Linked DNA regions of Homo sapiens. The protein of the gene in region 5 purifies or fractionates together with the protein of the main gene of each other region. This does not show direct contact. Each region holds a gene or a part of one and is shown on either strand. Other genes may lie near its edges.

The links.
Region 1: the proteins of C1orf210 (region 5) and SLC27A1 purify together in Homo sapiens (affinity purification with mass spectrometry; one large-scale study listed by BioGRID and IntAct). This does not show direct contact.
Region 2: the proteins of C1orf210 (region 5) and UBE4A purify together in Homo sapiens (affinity purification with mass spectrometry; one large-scale study listed by BioGRID and IntAct). This does not show direct contact.
Region 3: the proteins of C1orf210 (region 5) and ZDHHC7 purify together in Homo sapiens (affinity purification with mass spectrometry; one large-scale study listed by BioGRID and IntAct). This does not show direct contact.
Region 4: the proteins of C1orf210 (region 5) and LMBR1 purify together in Homo sapiens (affinity purification with mass spectrometry; one large-scale study listed by BioGRID and IntAct). This does not show direct contact.
Region 6: the proteins of C1orf210 (region 5) and ALG11 purify together in Homo sapiens (affinity purification with mass spectrometry; one large-scale study listed by BioGRID and IntAct). This does not show direct contact.

The regions. Positions count from the first base shown.
Region 1 is NC_000019.10:17,494,524-17,498,023, forward strand, and holds part of SLC27A1 (long-chain fatty acid transport protein 1), read left to right. Parts: intron 1-2,731; coding exon 2,732-2,941; intron 2,942-3,500. UniProt on the Homo sapiens protein: Mediates the import of long-chain fatty acids (LCFA) into the cell by facilitating their transport at the plasma membrane.
Region 2 is NC_000011.10:118,362,600-118,366,099, forward strand, and holds part of UBE4A (ubiquitin conjugation factor E4 A), read left to right. Parts: intron 1-2,440; 5' UTR 2,441-2,481; coding exon 2,482-2,602; intron 2,603-3,500.
Region 3 is NC_000016.10:85,008,736-85,012,926, reverse strand, and holds the start of ZDHHC7 (palmitoyltransferase ZDHHC7), read left to right. Parts: upstream 1-1,391; 5' UTR 1,392-1,641; exon of another isoform or gene 1,642-1,821; intron 1,822-4,191.
Region 4 is NC_000007.14:156,722,184-156,725,683, reverse strand, and holds part of LMBR1 (limb region 1 protein homolog), read left to right. Parts: intron 1-158; coding exon 159-249; intron 250-1,505; coding exon 1,506-1,572; intron 1,573-3,500. UniProt on the Homo sapiens protein: Putative membrane receptor.
Region 5 is NC_000001.11:43,282,782-43,286,947, reverse strand, and holds the start of C1orf210 (type III endosome membrane protein TEMP), read left to right. Parts: upstream 1-1,366; 5' UTR 1,367-1,504; intron 1,505-3,579; 5' UTR 3,580-3,677; coding exon 3,678-3,696; intron 3,697-3,840; coding exon 3,841-4,163; 3' UTR 4,164-4,166. UniProt on the Homo sapiens protein: May be involved in membrane trafficking between endosomes and plasma membrane.
Region 6 is NC_000013.11:52,031,749-52,034,100, reverse strand, and holds the end of ALG11 (GDP-Man:Man(3)GlcNAc(2)-PP-Dol alpha-1,2-mannosyltransferase), read right to left. Parts: 3' UTR 501-2,352; downstream 1-500. UniProt on the Homo sapiens protein: GDP-Man:Man(3)GlcNAc(2)-PP-Dol alpha-1,2-mannosyltransferase that operates in the biosynthetic pathway of dolichol-linked oligosaccharides, the glycan precursors employed in protein asparagine (N)-glycosylation.

The DNA.
Region 1 (3,500 bases), on a different chromosome or scaffold from region 5:
ACCATGTTGGCCAGGCTGGTCTCGAACTCCTGACCTCAGGTGATCCACCCACCTTGGCCTCCGAAAGTGCTGAGATTACAGGCGTGAGCTACCGTGCCCGGCCACAGGTAGCCCTTTTTATCGGTGCAGCTGCTGGCATCCCCTGCTGCAAGCTTCCAGCTTCCTTATTTGTGTTTGCAGCCCAATCTTCCAGGCTGTTCTTTGTTAGAAAATAAGTGATTTCTTGGGCTGCTTTTTGTTAGAAGGGAAGTTCTACCGAGGATTTTTTGTTTCCAAAAAAAAAAAAAATAGGCAACGTAGAGTAGCTACTCACCTGCATAATAAGAGATTGGGTTGGGGGCTGCCAGAGATTTGCGCCCTATGCGGATGGCACATCTGGTCCTCACCGGTTTTTCACGGTCTATTTAGATCAGATACAGCCTCCCTGCTAGCTTGTCTGTAAAAATCCTTGCCTTTTTTTTTTTTCTGAGGCGGAGTCTCACTCTTGTCCCCAGGCTGGAGTACAATAGAGCGATCTTGGCTTACTGCAACCTCTGCCTCTCGGGTTCAAGAGATTCTCCTGCCTCAGCCTCCCAAGTAGCTGGGATTACAGGCACATGCCACCAGGTCTGGCAAAATTTTCTTGTATTTTTGTAGAGATGAGGTATTACTACATTGGCTAGGCTGGTCTCGAACTTCTGACCTGAAGTGATCTGCCCACCTCGGCCCCCCAAAGTGCTGGGATTACAGGCATGAGCCACCGCGCCCAGCCATGTGCCCATTTTTTTTTTTTTTTTGAGATGGAGTCTCGCTCTGTCGCCCAGGCTGGAGTGCAGTGGCGCGATCTCGGCCCACTGCAAGCTCCGCCTCCCGGGTTTACGCCATTCTCCTGCCTCAGCCTCCCGAGTAGCTGGGATTACAGGAGTGTGCCACCACGCCCGGCTAATTTTTTGTATTTTTTAGTAGAGACGGGGTTTCACCATGTTAGCCAGGATGGTCTCGATCTCCTGACCTCGTGATCCACCTGCTTTGGCCTCCCAAAGTGCTGGGATTACAGGCTTGAGCCACCCCGCCTGGCCGTGCCCATTCTTAAGCCAGTCATATTGGCTGAGGAGGGGCTGGGCTGATTGGCCAGGTTCTCTCCTAGAGATGGTGTGGGCTGTACCACACCTAAGGCAGTGGCCCAAGTCTGAGAATGGAGGGAGAGGACCCTCCCCCTTAGGGACCTGCTGTTGGTCAGCAGCCAGTGATCTTGGGTGCACTGCATTTCCTCTCTGGGCCTCAGTGCCTTCATCTCCAAGCTCAGCTCAGAGCATGGCGGTGGTGTCTGCTGATCATATTGGTTTAGTCATCAGCTATTTAGTCAGTACCTTCTCAGGGGCACAGCTGGGGGCACAGGGGATGCCTCTCAGTGACGTTTGAGCTGAGACTGAAGAGTTCAGGCAAATGCATCTGGGGGAAGACTGCTTCAGGCAAAAGGCTAGCATGTGCAAAGTCCCTGAGGAGGCAGAGTGTTCAGCGGAGATGGAGGGAGAGGAGGCAGCAGGGGCGGCAGGGCCAGATCCAGTTGGCCACAGGAAGAAATGTGGGTTTCATCCTGTGTGTGAGCGGGAAGCCCCGAGCACATTTGCAGCTGTTATGATCCATCTGGTGGGTAATCCCTGGCATGCAACTGTTTTATTCCCACTCTGGGGCCGGGATGCCTGGGTTCAAATCAAATTCTGCCACTTCCCAGCTCTGTGATCTCGTTCCAGTTCCTTACCATCTGTGAGCCTCGGTTTCTCCATCTGTAAAGTGGCGGGGGGGGAGTCATTCCGAAGCCCAACTGGAGATGAGAACTCTTAAAGGCACCGTGGGGCACCTGGTGGATGACCCCAGGAAGCTCTTGCGGGGCTTGAGAATGTGTGGCAGGGAGGGAAGATGTCCTGCAGGGGGAGCCCATGAGCAGGTGGCTCCGTGGGCACCTGGGGCTCAGTCCAGACGCAGCGCAGCCTAGTGGGTGCACCTGGGAGTGGTCTGCCCAGGGGTGACGCTCCGGCCAGCCCAGGCTCAGCCAGGGGGCTCTGGGTGACAGTGTAGGCTCCAGGCTGAGGGTTGCCCTGCGGGGTGCCAGCTCTCCTGCTAGTCCTGCCCTGTGTGCCTGCTGAGGCTCAGACAGGGATGTGGTATCTCCAGGAAGCTGCTTGGCAGAATCGAGGGACCACGAAGGGGTGCGGGTAGGGGGAGGAGGAAAGACACTGCATCTGCTTGGATAGAAGTTGCATCCGGCCAGGCACAAGTGGCTCACACCTGGAATCTCACACTTTGGGAGGCTGAGGCAGGAGGATTGCTTGAGGCCAGGAGTTCAAGACCAGCCTGGGCAACAGAGCGAGATCCCCCATCTCTACAAAAAAATCTGTAGTCCCAGCTACTCGGGAGGCTAAGGCTGGAAGATCACTTGAACCCAGGAGTTAGAGGCTGCAGTGAGCTGTGATCATGCCACTGCACTCCAGCCTGGGCGGCACAGGGAGACCCCCAACCAAAAAACAACAAAAAAAGCTGCATCCTAGACCCTTTGCAAGAGACTGAACGAGTCCTAGGAGTCAATGTGGTCCCTAATGGAGTGTGGACGATTCTGCAGCCATCATCATCCTTAGGCTGTTCCGCTCATAGGATTAGCTCCCTGGGTGGGGCGGTCTCGGGGTCTCTCCTCTGATCCGGGCTCCCCACCGCCTGCCGGTCCCATCACCCACTTCCTCACCCCGTCCCCCAGGTGGTTCAGTACATCGGGGAGATCTGCCGCTACCTGCTGAAGCAGCCGGTGCGCGAGGCGGAGAGGCGACACCGCGTGCGCCTGGCGGTGGGGAACGGGCTGCGTCCTGCCATCTGGGAGGAGTTCACGGAGCGCTTCGGCGTACGCCAAATCGGGGAGTTCTACGGCGCCACCGAGTGCAACTGCAGCATTGCCAACATGGACGGCAAGGTGCACACCGGCAGGGCCCCGGGGCAGGTCTCGGAGTTCAGGGAAGACCACTGTCTCCTCTTCCTGGGGCCCCTGGGATACATAAAACAGCCTGGACTGGCGCGGAAGGCTCCGCCAAGGCGCACGCAGGGCGGGGTGTAAGGGGAGTTCCTGGGACTCCCGGTGCACCACCAGAGGGACAATCCTGCAGCCTGCACAGATAGTCATGTGACTGTGGTCCTTGGGTCAGGAGAGTTGGAGGATAGGTATGGCTGTGCGCCCTGGCAAGTGCCTCAGCCTTTCTGAGCCTCAGTTTCTGCGTGTGGAGATTAGCAAGGAGAATAGGGCTCTGTGTACCGTGCTGTTATTTTGTTGTTGTTGTTTGAGACAGAGTCTCGCTCTGTCGCCCAGGCTGGAGTGCAGCCACGTGATCATAGCTCACTGTAGCTTTCAGTTCCTGAGCTCAAGCAATCCTCCTGCCTCAGCCTCCCAAGTAGCAGCAAACAGATACCTTCATAATTAGCAACTACTTACTCTCTTAATCATCTCCATTCTCCGCTTGCATGAATCTCCCTCTCCT
Region 2 (3,500 bases), on a different chromosome or scaffold from region 5:
TATAACTGAAAAGTCCAGACTTATCTTTCCATCTCTCAATTCTGTTTTCTAGTGTATGTTGGCTTGGTTTTAGGCTAGGCCTTTTCTAAATGGTGTAAAGATGGCAACTCTATCTTACTGGCTTATCAACTCAATCAGGAGAAAACTCACTTTTCCGTAGATTCAGCTGAAGTCCTGAAGCTGGTATTCATTGACTCTGTTAGGCCTCCATAGTGTCTTGTGCCCACTCCTGGATCAGTTGCTTTGGCTGGAAAATGCTGTATTCTTTTTAGCCTGGCCAGACTTGTATGTTCATTCCTGGGGCTAGTGGGTGAGGTCAACCCCTTCTGAACTGGTCAGCCTCTTCTGGATTGAGTGGAGTGGATACCCAAAGGAAAAAAATGAATGTGATGTTTTAGAGAGAGAAATAACAAGAGCTCAATATACTTTTTGCATTCCTCTGGAATTTGTGGTATTTTAGGATGGAAGTAGAATGGTGGTCAGCTAACAATAAGACAATTCTTGGTGTTTTTACATTAACTACAGGTAATAATTAAACTTGTGCGGTAATTACATGGGGAAAATCCCTCTCATTAATTTCAATACTAAATATGGTATCTTTCCCTTTTTTTGCATTATTAAGCTTACTGAAATATACATAGCAAAAAATAAAATACAGAAGGCCAGGCGCAGTGACTCATGCCTATAATTCCAGCACTTTGGGAGGCCGCGGTGGGAGGATCACTTGAGGTCAGGAGTTCGAGACCAGCCTGGCCAACATGGTGATACCCCGTCTCTACTAAAAATCCAAATAACAGTTCAATTCCTTGAAGCAGTAAAGCTTTGAGCTGCACTGAGAGGAGACTAGACTGCCTAAGTCATTACAGCTAATTAGCCGTTAGCTCTTGTGTGGAAAAAATGGCAGAGGAGCATGAAGCAAGTGCTGAAGATGCCTCAGAATTGTCAAGAAATGTTATAAATAATCTCTTTCTCTGGTAAATAAGGGTAACTTTTTCGACCACATTAGCTTTTTTTTTTTTTTTTTTTTTTTGAGACGAAGTCTCGCTCTGTCACCCAGGTTGAAGTGCAGTGGCACAATCTCAGCTCTCTGCAACCTCTGCCTCCCGAGTCCAAGCAATTCTCCTGCCTCAGCCTCCTGCCTCCCAAGTAGCTGGGATTACAGGCACCTGCCGCCATGCCTGGCTAATTTTCGTGTTTTAGTAGAGATGGGGTTTCACCATGTTGGCCAGGCTGGTCTTGAACTCCTGACCTCAGGTGATCCACCTGCCTCAGCCTCCCAGGGTGCTGGGATTGCAGGCATGAGCCACTGCACCTGGCCCACATTAGCTTTTGTTGATATGATCCTGTGAGGAGTCTTGCCTCAATAAACCAAAGGTAGACCAAATGTTCTTTTTTTCTTCCTTTATACCCCTACTCCCGCTATTTCTAAGGTCTCTGTCCTTATAGCAGTTCAAGATCCTTATGAACAAAACATTCATACCCTTTGTCTCTTCCCACCCTTTTCAGTGTTGTATTTAATATTTCTATGTCATGGCCTTAAAATTTCAGAAAGGGGAGAAAGCCTTTCAGGGAGCCCTGTTTATTCTGTTGTGCCACTGAGTTCACTTGGTCTTGAATGAGGAAATGTAATCAGAAGAGTGTGAATGCAGGCTCAGCCAGCTCTACTAAACACCTTTGAGGTATCTATATTTCATATTACACAGTAGACCTGACCGTTGGAATTCGTGTTTCTTCAGTATTATTTTAAGAAATCAGGTAAACAGTGAAGGTTAGATATAGCATGAAGCAAAGACCATTTAATTTTTAGTGGAAGAAATATCAGTATTTTTAAGCCTAGAAATAAATAGATTGCTTAATCTATGTTAAAAACCCACAACATACAGCTGAACTGCTTCCAGTCCTGATTTGCCAGAGTCCAAATCTAAGATATGGGCTTTTACTTAATTTATATGTAGCTGAGAAATATCCATCCCCAGCCCTAAGTCATAGAAGTCCCTTGTCCTCACCCCAGTGAATGAGAACTAGACTGCCAGCTTAATTCTTGGGAAATCCATAATTCTTGTCTTATTATTTTTCAGTGCCACATTGTTATTACAATTAGTAGGTGAGTTCTCTCTTTGACTTCAATAATTCTTTCTACTTAACCTGTTTTCTTAAAGGTATTGCAAATAAAAGTATATCAACAGATTAATGCATTCCAGCTGAACGTTTTAGCCTTTTTAGTTTCAGCTATCCACAAATCAAGCCACCGAGTCCAGCTGGTAGGTTTGTAACCATTTTGCCAAAAATGTCTTGAGTTTGGGGACAGGAATTGGAAAATCTTAACCCAAAGTATTTTAAAATGTATTGTATTTGAGAAATGGGAAAAGAAACAACCACAGGTATATTACAGCTATTGTGTCATCTGCCCTCTTGTGTCTAATACCTGTCCTTTGAACAGCCTCTCCCACTAGGTCTGGATGGAGGATACCTTAAAGTGAAATGACAGACCAGGAGAATAACAACAACATCTCAAGTAACCCCTTTGCTGCTCTTTTTGGCTCCCTGGCTGATGCCAAACAGTTTGCGGCAATCCAAAAAGAGCAGCTGAAGCAACAATCTGGTAAGTGGAGGAGCCAATAGCAGCAAATAAGATGACCTAGAATGGGGTCTTCCCAAATTAAGTATTCTTTGAGTCCTTAATTGCAATTGGAATTTAAGTTTGGAACAAAAGTTGGTTTTTGTTTGTTTGTTGAGAGCAGAAATTGGGGTTTTTTGTTTGTTTGCTTTTATTGTTGGTTTTGTTGTGAGTCCCTCCCCTCCGCTGTCCTCTCCACTGTACAAAAAGAGACCAGGTAACAGGTGGTTCCATAGTAACAGATGCCAGTCGTGATCCCAAAGCTGTCAGGCTGTTTTCTTTAAAAGAAAAAAAAAATCACCTAGTAAAAGCTATTTAAATAAATGTTTTTAACATGGGACACAGAGGTGGTAAGTGTAGGTGTAGAAAGCAAGTCATGTGCAGCTATAGAAAGCAGATGTAAAAGGAAGAACTATAAAAGCTTTTTGACCTGTAGGCAAATGAGACTTGTTCTTAAGCTCAGCACTTCAAAGGCCCTCCCAAGCAAAGTGCTTCTTCTGTTCCGATGAGTGGCATCATTTGTAGCTTAGTCCTGTTAGGACAGACTTTTTTAAAAAATCTGATCCTTAGCCTTACTATGAAAAACATCAGAATAACATCTCAGTAATCAGAAAAAATGGTTTTCTTTCAGGCACCGAATTTAAGATCAAGTCCAGCTTCCTCCTATAAGGAGACATATACACTAGAAGAATTAGGATTTTTCTCAAATATGTTAGTCTTCTGAAGATATTCACAATCTTTCAAACCAGAAATTGCTCCCCTTCTCCTCTCTCCGAAAAGAATAATAGTGTTTTTCTTTTGAGAGAAGGAGAAGTGTTTGCATTTTCCCTTTATTTTGTTTATTTAAAAAAAAAAAAAACACTCAGGTGCATAGCTGACTTTT
Region 3 (4,191 bases), on a different chromosome or scaffold from region 5:
TTTTTCTTTTTCTTTTTTCATTGAGATGGAGTCTCGCTGTCACCCAGGTTGGAGTGCAATGGCGCGATCTCGGCCCACTGCAACCTCTGCCTCCCGGTTCTCAAGCGGTTTCTCCTGCCTCAGCCTCCCGAGTAGCTGAGATTACAGGCGCCCAAAACTGCACCCGGCTAATTTTTGTATTTTTAGTAGAGATGGGGTTTCGCCACGTTGACCAGGATAGTTTCGAACTCCTGACCTCAGGTGATCTGCCTGCCTCGGCCTCCTACAAGTGCTGGGATTACAGATGTGAGCCACCACACCTGGCCTTATTCTGGTTTTCTTTAGGTGTCTTCATTGAACAAGTAGGTATTGTCTGGCATACCCTTCTGGGTTATCTCGTCTTATGGGGTCTTACTTTTGTCTTTAAGCTATCTAGAGCTCTAGTGGAGCATTGTATATATACCATCATTAATGAGTTAAATGGTATCTTTGACATATGTTCATTTTATATTTGTGTGAGAGTCATAATTTTATTTTAAAAAAAAGATATGCTTTTTTTTTTTTTTTGAGACTGTTCACTCTGTCGCCCAGGCTGGAGTGCAGTGGCTTGATCTCAGCTCACTGCAACCTTCGCCTCCTGGGTTCATGATTCTCCTGCCTCAGCCTCTCGAGTAGCTGCTGGGATTACAGGCGTGCACCACTACATCCGGCTAATTTATGTGTTTTTAATAGAAACGGAATTTCACCATTGTTGTTCAGGCTGGTCTCGAACTCCTGACCTCAAGTGATCAGCCTGCCTTGGCTTCCCAAAGTGCTGGAGTTACAGGCGTGAGCCACCGCGCCCGGCCTTAAAATACATGTTCCTACTTTCAAACACTTAGGGCTTCCTATATGGAAGGGACAGTGGCGGTGCTCTAGTGTCCAAGTCCCTCAAGGAGGAGGCCGGGGGCTCCGCGGACCTCAGGAGTCAGGCCTCCAATCCCCAGTTCAGGGCGCTTTCCTCTTTTCCCAAGTGCTTTCTGGCTCAGCCATTTCCACTCCCGCTCCCTTACTTTCCCATTTCCTTCGGTCACATCCCCGCATATAGTACAGGCCACTGGAGCTGCCTCTGAGACACCGCCGCGGGCGCGGGTACACACTCCGCTAAGGGCATTCCCAACCCGGTTCCGCAGCCTAACGGCGTGGCTTGGACCCTGCTGCAGCCCGTAGCCCCTATCCTTTCTCCTCCGGACTTCAGTTTGGCGGCATCTCTGTCTTAGCGAGAGGGGCTGTGACTAAAAGCTGCCTTTTCTCAATGAACTGCCAGTTTGTAAGAGCCTCCGGGTCCCCTCAAACCGCCTCGAGCGCCCCTCTCCGCGAGAGCTGCGCGGCCGGAACTGCGCCGGCGTGACGTCACTGACCTCGTCGGGTTCACTTCCGGCGCTCGCACCGCCCCGCTCTCCAGCCAAGGCTCCGGGCTGAGGCATTTGCTTGGCTGCAGCCTCCTTCCGACCTGCCCGGCGGGACCCAGGGGACCAAGCCGAGCCGAGCCGCGGGGCCCGCTCCAGCCCGGCCATGAGCGCGGCCGCATGATGCGTCCCTGCCTCGGCCGCTGCAGTCGCCGCCGCCGCCGCCGCAGGCCGGGAGGAGCCGCAGCGCCGGGCGACCCCGCCCGGGCCTCGGGTGAGTGCGGCGGGCTGGGCCGGGCGGGCTGCTCACTCCCGGGTCTCCCGGCCACTTCTGGCCCCCGGCGTGCCCTGTCCTTCCGTCGGTTCCGCCGCTCTGTCTCCACCCCGCCGCACACCTGCGACCTTCTGGAGTTCCTAGGGGCACCTCCGTGCCCGCACCTGACTTCCCTTCCAGGTGCCCCCTTGTCATTCCTTAGTTGCTCTCTCGGGATAGGGCCCGGATTGCAGCCCCAGCTTTTTGCCTGACCTTGGGCGTGACACTCAGCTCTCCGAGCCCTGGTTTTCTGTGTGGCTAATGACGGGGTGGTGGTTACAGAGCAGCTATAAACCCTGTGTAAGCTGTAAAGAGTTTTTTAATAGGCAGGTATTACAATGAGCAGTCTCGCACTTCGCGTTGTGGCTTCTCTTCCTCTTAAGCTGTAAACTTTTCTCTTTTATTCTCTGCCCATCTTCCTAGTTATCTTCCCTCCTGCTCCACGTCAGTCATCTTTGGGTGTTAGTTGCCTGAAAGGGCATCTGGGACAGTAAAGCTTTCAGGGCAGTAAGGCTCACCTCTCCTGGTGTGGTTCCTTCTACAACTTTGTCACACTCAGTTAGATAGACACACTTTATTAGCTTATGAAGAACCAGTTTATTGTGGCCGTTAAATTGGAGTGTAAGAGACAGTGTTGATGCGGCTACCTGCCTTGTAGCTTCTTTTACTGTCTGGGCTGTATACAGTGCTGGGCAAATCGCTGCTACAGTGTTGCATTTTCAGTCTGCTTAGTGTATGCACTTAAGCGCACGTATTTATCTATTTTACTGTTACTATCCCAAGGGGTTTAGAGATTTAGGTCAATGTGTATTAATATTTCTTTCTGAACTCTTCATCTCACAGATGAAGAATCTCTTTTTTGTTATGTTTTACAGTGTTTACATACCTGAAATCACCTTTTAGTCACTTTGTGGCCTGGTACGCACGCGGTGGCTCGTGGCTCATGCCTGTAATCCCAGCGCTTTGGGAGGCTGAGGCAGGAGGATCACTTGAGCCCAGGAGTTGGAGAGCAGCCTGGGCAACATAGTGAGATCCCCTTCTCTACAAAAAAATTAAAAAATTAGCCGGATATGGTGGTACACGCCTGAGGTCTCAGCTGCTTGGGAGGCTGAGGTGGGGGGATCACTTGAGTTTGAGATCATGCCACAGCACTGCAGCCTGGGCAACAGAGTGAGATCCCCATCTCAAAAAAAAAAAAAAAGTCACTTTGTTAAATTCGCTTGTTAAAAGTCAGAACTTGGCCAGGCACAGTGGCTCATGCCTGTGATCCCAGCACTTTGGGAGGCCGAGGCGGGCGGATCACGAAGTCGGGAGATCGAGACCATCCTGGCTAACACGGTGAAACCCCATGTCTACTAAAAATACCAAAAATTAGCTGGGCATGGTGGTGGGCGCCTGTAGTCCCAGCTACTCGGGAGGCTAAGGCAAGAGAATCACGTGAACCCGGGAGGCGGAGCTTGCAGTGAGCCAAGATCGCGCCACTGCACTCCAGTCTGGGCGACAGAGCAAGACTCCGTCTCAAAAAAAAAAAAAAAAAGAAAAAAAGTCAGAACTTGGTTAAAGTGAAAGGCTCTTGGGATATTTGAAATATGGAATGGAACTGAAATATTAACTAAATTGCAATTCTTGAACATTCTGGAAAATAGGTTAGGGGCCCACATTGGCTTCTGATTTGAGAGTTGAAGGAGAAGAAGACTATTTGAAAAGGTAATTCCCAAAGGATTCGCTAAGTAACAATGGGAACTCTTCTGCTACCATTGGCTCAGAGCCTGCCTCAGTTGACAGATTAATGAATTGAAACTTTACAGCCCTGCTAATCAATGAACTGTAAAAACAAATCCTCTTCAAGAACAGAAGAGTATTAGCATGAATAGAATGGCCCTCTCAGTGAGAAAGAAAGCACTGAAATGAACTTTATATAAGAACAATCTTGATTCAGTCAAAAGTATGAACGTACTTTTACATTCTTACTGAAACTTACCTGCTGGCTTGGATGCTTTGTTGATATAAATAATACAATCTTTGTTAAATTAACAAAGAAAATGGGTGTAGAAATAAGTTCATGTAGAAAGTTAATGTTTGGGATGAACATTGAATAGTTTTCGTGATTGGACAACTATACAAGATAATTTTACTAAAGCAGCTTTTTGGGGTATGTTTCTGTAATATTTTAACTTTAGAAGTACTTTTTTTTTTTTTTTGAGACGGAGTTTCGCTCTTGTTGCCCAGGCTGGAGTGCAGTGGCTCGATCTTGGCTCCCTGCAGCCTCTACCTCCTGGGTTAAAGCGATTCTCCTGCCTCAGCCTCCCGAGTAGCTGGGATTACAGGCCTGAGCCACCGTGGCTGGCTAATTTTGTATTTTTAGTAGAGACAGGATTTCTCCATGTTGGTCAGGCTGGTCTCCAACTCCTGACCTCTGGTGATCCGCCTGCCTCAGCCTCCCAGAATGGTGGGATTACAGGCGTGAGCCACTGTGCCTGACCCTTTTTTTTTTTCTTCAAACCCTAGAGC
Region 4 (3,500 bases), on a different chromosome or scaffold from region 5:
CACTTGTCTAGAAGAGAAAACAACAGGTTAGTCTTCCTCAAGCACTTAAAGCGGCTTTTTGTTTTGCTTTTCCTATGGGCCTTAAGACTTTTTGGAGACTGCCGAGAACTTAGGAAACTTGCATTCTGTTGGAGAGTTTTTTTCCTTGATTCTCACAGCTATCTTATGGTGTCCTCTGTTGTCGGCTTCTATAGCCTTCGATTTTTTGGAAACTTTACTCCCAAGAAAGATGACACAACTATGACAAAGGTAAGGTAGAATCTTAGGTGACTGTGGCCTCTCGTTTGCCTTCCCTGACAGACTGCTTTATTTAATAGTCATTCTGAATGGTTCATTTGCAGTGATAGGTATTTGTTTGTAAGTTGCGTAAACACAAACTGGAAGATTTTCAAAATGCTGAGTGAGTGGGAAAGGGATGTACCCTGTTTAATTTGGATGGCGTCCATTCACTGTAAATGCGGAGAACTGCAGAGCTTGTTAACTAGCTATAGAAGGCTCCTGAAAGGACTCTTTTTCCTCTAAAGAAAACGTATTGCTAATGAGTAACTTGGATTGTGCTAACTGTACTTCAGGGAGCTTGTTTGAAGTCTGAAGAACTTAGTTGCTACAAGTAGTAGGGACAAAGTATTTCAAATTTGAATAATTAAAGTAAGACGGAAGAGTTCTATTCAGAAACATTTTGTAGTCTGAGGCTAATTTGACTTTTTCCACAACATGTCATTGGGTTCAGAATAAAAAGGCTGTTGCCGTATATAGTGACTGAATCTTTATAAAATATTCCCGTAGGCTGACAAAGAAGAATAACTAATAAGAGCTGAAAGCTTGTTTTGTTTTTATTTTATATTTTTAGCCTACTTAAAGGGGAGAAGTTATTTTACACACACACACACACACACACACACACACACACACACACACAGCTATTTCTTTAAACTTAATAAGTAGTTGAGATATTTAGTATCTAGTTTAAGTGATCATAAATATTAATTGATATTTTCAACTCCTCTTATTTACTATGGAAGAATAAACATGGGATGCATTATTACAAAAGTTTAGAGGTTTTGGATTTCTGGTGCTTTTTAAATCTTACAATTAACATTAGAAATAGATGTGATAAAAGAGATCTTAAGCAATAATCTGGCCTTAAAAATGTAGTCAGAAGTATCCAATATGTTAATTATTTTTTGCTTGACAGGCAGAGCCTTTTGAAAGTAACAGCTGCAATCAGTAATGTAAAGTGCATTATCTAGGTGTCAAGTAATTTAAGTATTCTATAACTATATCTGTGCTAGGTACTGTAAACATCTTCTAGAACTTACAGATATAACTTTATTTATTTTAAAAGTGTGTTATTCTTTGAAAATTCTGTACTGAATAGTATCATTAAGAAATCGGCAAAGTACACTAGGTAACTAGAATGCACAATCATTTCTCAGAATGTTACTGGGTTTGATTGTCATCCTGCTGTTTAACTGCCCAATATTCTTTCTCGTTTCTCATAACAGATCATTGGAAATTGTGTGTCCATCTTGGTTTTGAGCTCTGCTCTGCCTGTGATGTCGAGAACACTGGGTAAGTTTCAGTGAGAAATTTTCACTTAAAGATCCATGTTTTTAAAAACTGTCTTTACTGAACTTATTTAACATTTACTCATAAAGATTACCTTTGAAATACAGTGTTTCTTCCTACATTATTTTACACTTTTACTTCTATACTTTATGTATAGGGGCATACCAAGACAAATACTTTTATCAAATAATGACTACTTATTTTTTAAACACTTAAAAGCATTCTTTCTCCAAACAACGGGCTGGTTTTTGTTGTATTTTGTTTTTACTGACACATCTATAAGTTAGGCTTTCGAGTCCTCTAGTGAGGAAACTGCATTAAACTAATTTTTCTATTTAAAAGCTTTTGAGCGTTTATAATTTAGTATGGTTTAAAAAATTGAAAATTTGTAAATTATTTTAAGCTGCTTTGTGTCCACAAAATAGAGGTGAACGCAGTGTAATCTCTGAGAACACACTCTGATTCAAAGGACACCCTTGAGAGTTCCTACTTGCCTGTCATTCATTTCTGTCATTTTCTTATTGTTTCAGTTTACGGAGAATTTGATAATCTTTTAAAAGAAAAACAGATTTTTGCTTTGTCATTGAAATAGTTGAGTAAGTCTTCCCTTAGTTGTCTTTTATAAAATGCTATTGTAGACCATATTCTGAGTTCTTCACTAAATATTATTTCAGACAAAAGTTTCCATTAAGCATTTCTATCTAATTCTCTAGACTTAGGTTTTGACTTAAGAGTGCACACGAATGATTGGAAAATTTTGATCATTAAATTTTAGCTACTTGCTCATAACAAAAATTGCTGGTAACTTTGAGTTGCTTTTGCATTAGCTCTCATATTGCCTCCATTATTTATTGAAGACTTACAGATACCAGGGATGCAGGCTGTGCAAAGAAAGTAGAAGCTTTGTAGTTATCTTCATAATTCTTACAAAGGATTTCATGTTTGTAATAGAAAACAAAAAGTATAAATGTAAAGGGACCACTGTTCCATAAGCTAATAAAAAACTGGTGTGTGTAATAGTCTTATTTCTTTTGTGTTTGCTTTATAGGACTTGTAATTGTTTTGACATCTGCTTATGTGAATCTTGAAAATGCCAAAAGTATGCTCTTTAGCAACCTGATTTGATGTTAAATGTTATCATTTATATTATGACAGTCTATTAAATAATTTCTGTTATATTTCAGCCAACCTATCATTTTAATACTTAGGAAACTCATTCACTGTACTATTATTTAAGATTGATTGCTAATCATTAATATATACCGATTTTATGGAAGAAAATTACATGCTGAGTATAGTTTTAACACAAAGAAAACAAACTAATGGTAAAATTTACTTTTTGAAGGCCAACAAATTAAATTCCAGAGTAGTTTGCCATAGAGATAAATAAAAAGAAAAAAAAGAAAGATGGAACAATTAAAATGCAGCTAACAAATGCCTGGACCCAGCTGTCCAAACAGGATTAATGGAGTGCATTAGGGTACAGTGAGTCATGTGGTGCTTTGCAAAATATCAACACGCACTGCATTACATGTTATGCCCAGTGGCATTGAATAGATGAAAAGAAATAAATACGTTAAACAGATTCATAGAGGCTTTTCACAGTATTAAAAAAGCAAATTTCTAGACTAAAAGAAAAAGCTTTATTTTAGCATTATGGGAAATGCAAACTAGAGAGTTACTTTGTAATTCCTCTATTAACCCTTTAGAATTGAGTCTTTGATTTTAAGAAGATAAAATATAGGGAATTGTCATGAATATTATCCTAGTGTATAACAGGATTTTGATTTACCAGCTGAAAAGCTTATAAGACTAGAATAGAGGATGTATTTAAGCAATCAGATTCCAAGCTGTGACATTTTTCAGTCTTTCTTGTCGCCTCTCTCAAGGAAACCCTGACCTTAGTGTGGTCTCCTTTGCTCCTGTGAAAT
Region 5 (4,166 bases):
GTTTGGTGTAGCTGCAGCAGAGGAGGCAGGAAAGGTGGGAAGGGATGGCCCTGAGGGTTCAGATTTCATCCTAAGATCTTCAGGGCCAAGTGTGAACTGGCCCCCACCTTCCAGCCACAGTTCTACCATGCCTTGTTTGCATCCCCTCTCTGTACCCCCCTTTTATTTTTTTGAGACAGGGTCTTGCTCTGTCGCCCAGGCTGGAGTGTGATGGCGCAATCATGGCTCACTGTAGCCTAAAACTTCTGGGCTCAGGCAGTCCTCCCCCCTCAGCTTCCCCAGTAGCTAGGACTACAGGTGAGCATTACCACGCCCAGCTAATTTTTGTGTTTCTAGTAGAGATGGGGTCTCCCTATGTTGCCCAGGCTGATCTCCGCTCATGGGCTCAAGCAATCAACCCGCTTTGGCCTCCCAAAGTGCTGGGATTACAGGCGTGAGCCACCATACTTGGCCTCTCTGCAGCCCTTGCTCCCACTGTGCCCGGCCTATCCTTGCGAATTCGGGGCCTCCAGGCCTTGGCGCGTGCGGTCCTTCCTCCCTTAGGTAGTTACGGGGAGCCTGCCCTGGGTCAGTACTGTGCTGGGAGCCACAGGCTGTCAAAGCCTGGCCCCACCCCAGGAGAGCGAATAATCACAAGATAATGAGGAATGCTGCGACAGTGGGTGCTCTGGGCATGGAAGAGTGGGGACTTGCAGGGTAGAGGGAGGACTCAGGGAAGGTGATTCCTGAACTGGAGCTTGAAGAACAGGGGGCACCAGGCCCAGAGACGAGGAGTAAAGCTAAAGGGAATCAGAGAGCACCCGGGAGAGGTTCAGAGCCTGGCTTGTGGGGTCACGGGATCCTGAGATCCAGATGAAGGCTGAGCCCCCATCCAGATCCACCCCTCACCCCCTACACAGTTACACACACATTTGTAGGCAATTTGGGAGTGTTCTTGGTCCTCCTGGCTTTGCCTGGAAAGAATGCCCTCCCCACCCGCTCTGGTTCCAGCCCACCACCCTTACAGGCCTGCAAAGCTCCCTCTTCAACTCTGGACTTTGTACCAGTCACCGGACGTTCAGTTGTTTATCAACCTGAGCACCTGCCTGCTGAGGTGTCTGCCCCTCTAGGGCCCGCTGGACGCTTCTCTGGATCCCAGCTGTACAAACCGCAAGCATTGGGGGGTGAGGGTGAGGTCTACACCCATAAAGTTCTTGGCAAAAGCTTGGGGGAGAGGTAGAATTATCCCTCCCCACTGGAGGCGCTGCCGCAGCCCGCCCTCTGCCAGACCTGCAGCTTCAGCCCCGCCCACTGCCTCCGCAGGTGAGTCAAGCTCTGCCTTGACCCGCCCACCTGTCCAGGTTCTGCCGGCCCCAGCCGGAAGCTTACTCCGCGGATTGTGCACAGTTCTTGAAGGTGGGAACAGAAGAGAAGGCCCGGGGGGGCCGGGGAGGGGGTACCCAGGCTCTGCACAGTACCCAAGGGGCTTCTGGCAGCAGGAAGGAAGCTACACATCAGAGTTGGGGTAGGTGTCTGTGCATGTCAGAGGGGTGTTTGTTGGTGGAGGAAAGTGTGACCTGGGGGGAGGGGCTGTGCGTATGGGGGATGGGCAGATCAGTGTGGGCTGTGAGTTCAGAGGCCTGTTGGGGAGTGTATATGCACCCTTGGAAGGTTAGTGTGTGTGTGTCTTCTTGGGAAGAATTCACAGGGCAGGGAGGAAAGGAATAGGAATACAACCTTAGAAACGTCAAATTGAATTCAGTTCATTCCAGTGTAACACATTCTCATGTTTTGCGGACCTAGTACTAGGATGAGGCCCACAGCAGGCTGAGGAATGAATGAGCAGCTGACCTCTCCTTCCCAGGACGTCTCTCCCGCTCCCACCTGTATATTCACTCTCACGCTCCCCTCGTTAATTTCACAAGCACCACACTGAGGGGCTGAACGCCCAGCTCCCTGCAGCGCCAGGGTACAGATCCTTCAGCCAGCCGTTGCCCACGGGGAGCTGCCCGCCTAGCAATGACTGGTTCTGACTGGTGGTTGACTGGGCAGGATGGTGACAGGTCATCCAGGGTAGGTCCAGGGACAACCTCACAGGCAGGTATGGTCTGATTTGGCCTTGACAGACTGGCGCCCCAAAAACTGAGGAGGGCGTGGCCAGGGAGCAGGAGGGTGGGTGAGTGGGAGGAGGGCATGTGTGTCTGTCTGAAGTGCTGGGGAGGGAACTGTGGAGAAGAGGAAGAAGAGTTTGGCTTGAGGGCCGTGTGCTGGATTGCAAGGCACTGTGGGGCATGGGGAGCTTTTGAAGGGATTTTAACCAGGCTAGTGATGGGGTCAGATTTGGGTTGTAGGCCCATCACTCTGTGGAAGAGACCAGAGGTGGGGAGCCCAGTTAGGAGATTATGGCTAGAGTACAAGAGGAAGGTGGCTTGGACTCAGCTGTGGCAGTGGGGTGGAGAAGAGGGTATTGTCATTCCAGAGATGTTTAGTGGAAGACATGATGGGGATTGATACCAGGTTGGATGTGAGGAGGTTGGGGGGGGTTTGAAGGCACTTGTATCAAAGAATATACTGGGGTACTCCCCTCAACTTCTCTCCTAAGTACTTCCCTAGCCCGGCTACTCTGCCCCCAAGGACTCCCCTGGTTCAGGTGCTCCACTGGCAGATATGCTCCTGCCCTAGCTGTTCGTCTGCCAGGTACTTCTAACTTTCATGCTCCTCCTCTAGATACTCCCCAGATTCAGGTGCGCCTCCTCCAGACACTCCTTTGATCCAGGTGCTCCTCCTACAGGTGTTTCCATGCCTGGATGATCTTCCTCCAGCTACTCCCCTAATTGAAGTGTTCCTCCTCTAGGTGTCCCCAGCCCTGGGTGATAATTTCCTGATTCAGGTGATCCTCATTTGGATACTCCCTGGCTTGAGCCTCCCTGTGGGGGCAGAGTGTGGGCCTCCTTTGAGTAGAGGTGAAAGGACAGGGGTTTGCTTGAAGGGCTGAGGGTAGAGGTGGGCAGCAGCGGCTTTCAACTTAGAAGGGCCAGGGCTGCTCTGGCTGTGTCCAGGGCCCCTGTCCTCAGTAGCAACTTGCATCACCCTCCCCATATGTGGTCTCCGCTTTGGCTGGGTAGCTCCAAGCAATTGCTGTTTTCTGACCTTCGGGAGCCAGGACCCACCTCTGCCCCTGTCTCCCATCCTCAGCTTACCAAGCAGTGCAACAGACTGGGCTCTGGGTTCGAATCTGAAGACTTTAGTTGAGTCAGTTCACCTTTTTCAGCCTCAGAGCCCTCATCTATAAAGTGGGGATAATGTTTATACTTACCTTACTGGGTTTTGTGAGCATGATGCCTGGTGCTTGAATTATAAGGAATGCTCAGTAAGTTCTACAATTTATTTTTTTTTTAGCAGCTTCCAGAGCCAAACCCTGTGATGGTCCCTTACAAATAGCCAGTTTCTGTAGGCTCAGCTTGTTTCTCTTCTGTGGAGAGCTGGTGTGGTCAGTTGTCCAGTCCCCAGAGTTTGTGCAGGGCTACCATGGCTGTGAGTGTGACCTGGAAAGTGCACCCTGTGACCATCCCTGACACCCATACCTATGTTATTTTCTAGGACTTGTGCCCTGGGGCTGCCTGGCATCTGGGGGCCTCCTCAGAGCCAGGGCTCTTTCTGGTTGAGGCTGAGACTCACTGGTGTCATCAGGCCCCTCCATGAATGAGACAAACAAAAGTGAGTGACAGTGGGAGGATGATGGGGGTGGGGGGCTTCCCCTTAGATGCTGGGGTTGGGGGAAGGACCCTACCTGCACTGCTCTTGGTTTCTCCAGGGAGCCCCCTCTGGGGCCCACCTATAATGCTGTCCCTTTCTCTGCAGCACTTGTTGGGCCTTCGGAGCTCCCCACAGCGTCTGCTGTGGCCCCTGGCCCAGGCACTGGGGCTCGGGCATGGCCTGTGCTGGTAGGATTTGTGCTGGGGGCTGTGGTCCTCTCGCTCCTCATTGCACTTGCTGCCAAATGCCACCTCTGCCGCCGATACCATGCCAGCTACCGGCACCGCCCACTGCCTGAGACAGGAAGGGGAGGCCGCCCACAGGTGGCTGAAGATGAGGATGATGATGGCTTCATCGAGGACAATTACATTCAGCCTGGGACTGGCGAGCTGGGGACAGAGGGTAGCAGGGACCACTTCTCCCTCTGAGCT
Region 6 (2,352 bases), on a different chromosome or scaffold from region 5:
TCAACACTTTGACCTCCTCTGTGTCTAGTAACATTTGCATATAGTACAACTGAGCACATAGCACCAGAATATTGGAACAGATGCTTCTCCAAAGCCAAGGGTTGCCTTACATTTAGAGTGGGAAAAGAGGAAAATGAGTTAGCAGAGGAGCAGCGGGGAGGGGGGTAAATTACAGGACATAATTTGCTTCTAAAAATTTGTGTTTCGTGTTGTAGTTATATAATTAACTTTTCTATTGTACTGATTGACAGATTTGGCACAGACATCCTCTCATTGTGAATATATATGAATATATCAGAGTTTTGGACTCTGGGGTATATTTACATAAACACAAGTATTCTGAAAGCATTGATAACCACACTGGTGTCTCTTAATTTTGTCTATAAGATGACCTTATAAAATCCCTCAAGAATTATTTAAATCAAGTGTACGAAGCTCTGCAGTTTTTTGTTATGTCTGAAATATTCATTAAAAAGTTTATTAAACCTGACAGCCTCTTCTTAATGTTTCACAAGCAAGACAAACTTTTATTTTTGTTTCTTCTTTAATTGGCATATGGAGCTTGGGAATATTAGTAGGAGAACAAGGAGACTATGTGAGGCATATAAAAGGCACCACACTGGAAAGAATCCAAGAGAATGAAAAATCACTTCTTTAAATAATATTTAGACACAGACTTTGTATCTATATTAGATATAAATCATGTCTAAATACAAATCTAAATAATATTTACAAATAATTATTACACAAAACCTATGTAACACACACTTTATAGTACACAACTGTAAATAAGAATACAAATCTCCACTGCTGTGGGTTCAAAACAGCAGGCTTGGACCACTCAAAAATGACATCTGAGAGGAATTAATAGTCATCCTGAAAGTTCTGCAGACAGACGCTAGCGGACAAACCACTTTGACACTTTTCATGCTATCATTCAGAAAAAAATAGAATACATGTAATACCAAATTAGGAACACTGATAATGAACATATATGCAAATTATATCTTCCAATGATATATCTGTGATATATGAAAATAATTTTGAAGAAATAAGCTTAAAATATAATTTACGGAATTCCAGAAAACTTTTTCTTCCTTCACTACATCCTCAGGAATAAGGCAATTGAGTGGATAACAGTTTGAATCTTACTTCAAAGTGTAGCTACAAAGTAAGAAAAAGCACTGGGCCAGGAGTCAGAATATCCAGGTTATAATCTTGATTCTTTCATGAAACAGCTTTGTGACACTGAAGGAATCTACTAAATTCTTTAGATTTAAATTGTTCTTGTCTGTAAAGCTGAAAATAAGAGAGAACTGGGCTAATCTGTAGGGTTCCTTTCACTCCAATTTCTACCAGTCTTTTTCTAAATGGGATCATCTCTAACAAAAAGTTACAATGGTGTGTCAGAACATCCTGTGACTGACCCTCTGTTTGCTGCTTTTTGATCTGATGACAGATGGCTTGGAGATGTATCAACAACATAATTGGGAGTAGATAAGCTGGCCACATTGATGAATGACTGAGAGGAGACTGCAAAGAAATAATATACCGTTTCATTTGCCCCTTAACACAAAGATGAATCAGCCTGTGGATGGGGTCAATTCACTGAACTAGAAAGGATTGATTATATATGCATAAAGTGCAAAAGCTATAGGTCTTTATAGCCATATCTGCTCACACATATATTCACTTTTCCATGCTAGTTATTCAGGATAGAAGGTGCATTAAATTTATACCAATTCCTAGCTACTGGCCTAGTAACTAACAATCTACAGAGTTGTAATGCATTAATAAATATAGGATTATAGAAGACATTTAGTATGTGATGTTACCTTTAAGTAACTCTCATAATTTTCTTTTTCCTTTTTTTCTTTTTTGAGATGGAGTTTTGCTTATTGCCCAGGCTAGAGTGCAGTGGCACAATCTTGGCTCACTGCAACCTCTGCCTTCCAGTTTCAAGCAATTCTCCTGCCTCAGTCTCCCAAGTAGCTGGGATTACAGGTGCCTGCCACCAGGCCCAGCTAATTTTTTTGTATTTTTAGTACAGACAGGGTTTCACCATGTTGTTCAGGCTGGTCTCAACTGCTGACCTCATGATCCACCCATCTCGGCCTCCCAAAGTGCTGGGATTACAGGTGTGAGACACCGCACCCAGCCCTTAACTGTCGTAATTTTCAAAGTAGTTTCATCTACTTTCCATCTCATTCCAACTCTAAAAGGTAGTAAGGACTGGAATTAACAACTCCAGATTACAGATGAAGAATCTGAGACTCAGAAAGATAAAGGAGCAGCTTTAGTGTCAAAAGGTCAGAAGTTTGTAAATGAAGAAGCTGAAGGTAGGCCCAGATG